2 separate regions of the Homo sapiens genome follow, and region 1 is linked to region 2. Evidence: fine-mapped expression QTL. A gene starts in region 2. The other region holds a variant in brackets. All regions are shown on one strand. Distances are between the middles of the regions. Region 1 has its middle 25 kb from the start of PTGER4. Region 2 holds the start of CARD6 (caspase recruitment domain family member 6).

Region 1 (2,805 bases), 140 kb after region 2:
ACATGTAAAGGTTTGTTACAAAGATAAACACGTGTCATGAGGGTTTGTTGTATATATTATTACATCATTCAGGTATTAAGCTTGGTACCCAATAGTTATCTTTTCTGCTCTTCTCCCCCCTGCCACCCTCCCCACTCAGGTAGACCCCATTGTCTGCTGTTTCCTTCATTGTGTTCATAAATTCTTATTATTTAGCTCCCACTTATAAGTGAGAACATGTAGTATTTGGTTTTCTGTTCCTGTGTTAGTTTGCTATGGATGATAGCCTCCAGCTCCATCCGTGTTCCCATGAAAGACATGATCTCATTCTCTTTCGTGGATGCTTAATACTCCATGATGTATATGTACCATATTTTCTTTAGCCAGTCTGTCATTGATGTGCCTTTAGGTTGATTCCAAGTCTTTGCTATTGTAAACAGTGTGCAATGAACGTTTGCATGCATGTGTTTTTATGGTAGAATGCTTTATATTCCTCTGGGTAAAGGCACCCAGTAAAGGGATTGCTGGATTGGATGGTAGTTCTGCTTTTAGTTCTTTGAGGAATCACCATACTGCTTTCCACAATGGTTGAACTAATTTACACTCCCACCAACAGTGTATAGGGTTCCCCTTTCTACACAACCTTGCCAGCTAGCATCTGTTATTTTTTGACTTTCTTATAATAGCCATTCTGACTAGTGTGAGATGGTATCTCATGGTTTTGATTTGCATTTCTCTAATGATCAGTGATATTGAGCTTTTTTTATATGCTTTTTGGTTGCATTTATGTCTTCTTTTGAAAAGTGTCTGTTCATGTCCTTTGCCCATGTTTTAATGGGGTTGTTTGTTTTTCTCTTGTAAATTTGTTTAAGTTCCTTATAGATGCTGGATATTAGACCTTCGTCAGATGCACAGTTTGCAAATGTTTTCTCCCATTCTTTAGGTTGTCTATTTACTCTGTTGGTAGTTTCTTTTGCTGTGCAGAAGCTCTTAAGTTTAATTAGATCCCATTTGTCAATTTTTGCTTTTGTTGGAATTGCTTTTGGTGTCTTTGTCATGAAATCTTTGCCCATTCCTAGGTCCAGGATGGTATTGCCTAGATTGTCTTCCAGGGTATTTATAGTTTTGAGTTTTACATGTAACTCTTTAATACTTCTTGAGTTGATTTTTGTATATGGTGTAAGGACGGGGTCCAGCTTCAATCTTCTGCATATGGCTAGCTGGTTATCCCAGTACCATTTATAGAATATGAAGTCTTTTCCCCATTGCTTCTTTTTTTCAGCTTTGTCAAAGATCAGGTGCTCATAGATGTGTGGCCTTATTTCTGGGCTGTCTACTTTGTTCCATTGTTCTATGTGCCTGTTTTTGTACCAGCACCATGTTGTTTTGGTCACCGTAGCCTCATAGTATGGTTTGAAGTCGAGTAATGTGATTCCTCCAGCTTTGTTCTTTTTGCTTAGGATTGCCTTGGCTATTTGGGCTCTTTTTTGGTTCCATATAAATTAAAAAAAA[T/A]TTTTTTCTAGTTATGTGAAGAATGCCATTGGTAGTTTGATAGGAATAGCATTGAATCTGTAAATTGCTTTGGGTAGTATAGCCATTTTAATGATATTGATTCTTCCTATCCATGAGCATGAGATGTTTTTCTATTTGCTTGTGTCTTCTCTGATTTCTTTGAGCAGTGTTTTGTAATTCTCATTGTAGAGACCATTCACATCCCTGGTTAGCTGTATTCCTGGATATTTTATTTTTGCAGCTATTGTGAATGGGATTGCTTTTCTGATTTGGCTCTCAGTTTGGTTGTTGTTGGTGTATAGGAATACTAGTGATTTTTGTATAATGATTTTGTATCCTGCAACTTTGCTGAAGTTGTTTATCAGTTGAAGGAGTGTTTGGTCTGAGACTATGGGGTTTTCTAGGTATAGAATCTGCAAACAGAGATAGTTTGATTTCCTCTCTTCCTATTTGGATGCCCTTTATTTCTTTTTATTGCCTGATTGCTCTGGCCTGGACTTCCAATACTATGTTGAATAAAAGTGGTGAGAGAGGGCATCCTTGTCTTGAGCCAGTTTTCGAGGGGAATGCTTCCAGCTTTTGCCCATTTGGTCTAATGTTGTCTGTGGGTTTGTCATAGATGGCTCTTACTATTTTGAGCTTTGTTCCTTCAATACCTAGTTTATTGAGAGTTTTTAACATGAAGGGATGTTGAATTTTATCAAAAGTCTTTCTACATTTATTGAGATAATCATGTGGTTTTTGTCTTTAGTTCTGTATGTGATGAATCACGTTTATTGATTTTCATATGTTGAACCAACCTTGCATCCTGAGGGTGAAGCCTACTTGATCATAGTGGATTAGCTTTTTGATTTGCTGCTGGATTTGGTTTGTAGGTATTTTGTTGAGAATATTTGCATTAATGTTCATCAAGGATATTGATTGGCCTGAAGTTTTCTTTTTTTGTTGTGTCTCTGCCAGGTTTTGGTATTAAGCTGATGATGGCCTCATAGAATGAGTTGGGGAGAAGTCCTTCCTCCTAAATTTTTTTTTTTTTTTTTTTTTTTTTTTTTTTTTTTTTTTTTTTTTTGAGACGGCGTCTTGCTCTGTTGCCCGGGCTGGAGTGCAATGGTGTGATCTCAGCTCACTGCAACCTCCGCTTCCCGGGTTCAAGCAATTCTCCTGCCTCAGCCCCCTGAGTAGCTGAGACTACAGGCATCTGCCACCATGCCCAGCTAATTTTTATACTTTTAACAGAGATGGGGTTTCACCATGTTGGCCAGAATGGTCTTGATCTCTTGACCTTGTGATCTGTCCACCTCGGCCTCCCAAAGT
Region 2 (2,805 bases):
ATCTGCCCCGGCCTCCCAAAGTGCTGGGATTACAGGTGTGAGCCACAGCGCCCAGCCACCTCTTATTTCACTGGAGGACAGGAATACCTAACACCTCCTATATAACTTGCATGTCAACATGTCAACTTTCAGAACTTTCTTTTTTCCACTAAAAAAAAAAATCAGATCACACCACTGTCTTGCTTAAAGTTTGAGTCCTTCCTAGCAACCTTACAGGGTAAGTGAATAAAACGAAAAATTTGAATCATATGAACAGTGTTTACTTGTGGACTTACTGTGACTCACAACAGACTCACGTCTCTTGGGGTCATTGCTAATGAAATCTGATCACAAATAATTTCTAATCAGTAAGCAAATGGCTCTATTTGGAATAGTGTGCTTTAGAAATAATAAAAGAAAAATTTCTAAGCATATAAATCTTGTCCTAAATTAGGTATCACTAACATTCACCTTTTTATCTGAGCCTCTACCTCTCTAACATCCCTTAAAATAATTTTGAATTTTTTTTTAGATTCCTAGAAAAAGAGCTAGACCTAGTCCTAGTAGTAATTTACAGAATTGCTAAATAACTGGAAGAATTGCTTTTTCATGGACTACTAGTTATCTTTGAACCATTTAAGAATTAGCACTGGAATTGCTCCAGAAAACAGCTGCTGCTGGCATTCTTATCACCAAAAAAATGAAACTACTGATTTGCCATCTATGTGTTAAAAATTATTTTCCTTGTATTTTCAAAACGGCTATACTAAGTGAAAGATACAGCTTGTGGTCTTGGCACTGTAAATATCCACGAATTCATCTACTTGAAAAACAAACCCTGGATTGTGTTATTATTAAAGTATTTTCCTTCCAACTGTGAGATTTTAGCATGTTACTGCCAGAATAATGAGCAGTTTGTTAGCACTAAAACAACTTCAAGTTTTGAGTACAGTCTGAAAAACAAATTATCGATTCAGTAGACCAATAAGATGTTAAATTTCAGAAACTTTTTAAATTCCAGTTTTTCCCTATTTCATATTTCAATGAAAATTATCTCCAGAAAAAGACTAACAAAAATAAAAGGCAACAATTTTCTTTCATTTTGTTTTCTTTTTCAGAAAGTCTGCCCCCTTCCTCTCACCCCAAAAAGTATACAAAGTCAACTTACCATGCCTTAAGCCGCAAATGGCAGCTGACTGTGGAAAAGTACTAAATAAACACTTGAGAAAATGCTGACAGGTCGCCTCTCCCTTTTTCTGTACCAAAATTAACAGCTTCCGACTTTTCTTCAGGAGATCTGTAACATTCTCCAGAGTCTCATACTCTTCCTCAGAAATCAGCCTCCGAGAAGTTAACGTGTCTAAGATAGAATCAGGATCATGTTGAAGGATTTCAAGCAACTTTTTTCTTTCTCTTTCTATGATCTCTGAGGGAGTACTCTCGGTAGCCATTGTTCCTGTTTCCTCTAAACCAGGAAATATATTATGAAATCATCCTAATGAATAAGTAAAAGTTAAAAAAAGAATGACAAAGAACAATTCTATTTGGCTAAGCTTTAACATGTCAATGATGCCTAGTGTTGGAGAGTGCAGATACAAGCACAGTGGGGCAACCCAGCTCGGAGCACTCTCTGATCCGGGGTCCTTGTGGATTATTTATCTGCTCTTTTGAAGTCTTGATAAATTCTCACCATGACTCAGACCCAGGGTCACCTCCTCCAAGAAGTCGCTCTTGAACTTCAGGTTGGACTAGGTATTCCCTGCTCAGAGAACTATACTATGATGCCAAGAATGTAAATTATTAATTGATATTTGGTGGGCAATATGGCAATATACAGCAATAAATAAATAAAGTTGAAGACAGACAAAAATAAAACTTCATATCCTTCAACCCAGCAATTCCAGTTCTAGGAAATTATCTTAAGGAAATAATTGAGCAAATGCCCGAAGATGTATGTACAAGAATCTGCATTACAACATTGTTTACAACAGTACAAAATTGAAAATAACCAAAGTTGGGGTTTAGGGAATAAATATTGACATGTCGACAGTGAAACACCAAAGAACTGTTAAAAAGGATAAAGTACATCTCTACATATTGACAAGTAATGATATCCATGATATATTGCTATGGAAACAGCAAGTTATAGATCTCATTTTTGTTTTAAAAAACTTAATGTGTATATAGTATATGTATATAATATGTATATGCAGATATGCATTATATTTTAAAGAAGACAAGAGATATCCCAAATTTTAACACTGGTTATCTCTGAGAATATGACTACAGGGAGATTTATACTTCCACTTTAAACATTACTATTTAATATTTTACATTTTTGGTTTTTTATTATTATTTATTTTAAGAAAATTACCTGGTTGGTCTTTATTTACTCCTTCATAGTTCACAAGAACCTGAAAGCGATCTGCATAACTAGCAACAGGATACTGGATGAATAAACTGTGATATTTCTTATAACATAATATTACATGGCATTCAAAAAGAATGAACTTCAGTGACCCACAATATAGAGAAATCATAACAATAGTAAGGAAAAACTGTAAATCCCAAAAGATTATATACAGTATGACAACCTTTTTAAAAGTTGAAAATAAACACACCCTTACATTTAAGAGTATACATGAAGTCATTAAAATTATACAAAACAAAAAGCAAAGAATGATAAATATGAAATTCAGAATGATGGTTACCTCGCATATGGGGAGCTTGGGGATGGGATGGGATTGGGGAGGAGATCATGGATGTCCTACAATGTAGGAGTTGGGCCTATCAGGGCTACTATATTGTTAAAGGTAAATAGCTAAT

The links. PIP is the estimated chance that this variant, and not a neighbour inherited with it, causes the effect.
Region 1: its variant is fine-mapped to the expression of CARD6 in whole blood (TOPMed, PIP 0.95).

What each region holds. Positions count from the first base shown.
Region 1 is chr5:40,703,658-40,706,462 of GRCh38, reverse strand. It overlaps a transcript of PTGER4 not described here. Among named protein-coding and RNA genes, the nearest start is that of PTGER4, 25 kb to the right of the region's middle. The variant T/A (reference allele first, on the strand shown) is at 1,492.
Region 2 is chr5:40,840,008-40,842,812 of GRCh38, reverse strand. CARD6 (caspase recruitment domain family member 6) reads right to left here and starts at 1,446. Exons shown (of 3, transcript NM_032587.4): 1 at 1,148-1,446. The coding sequence starts at 1,430.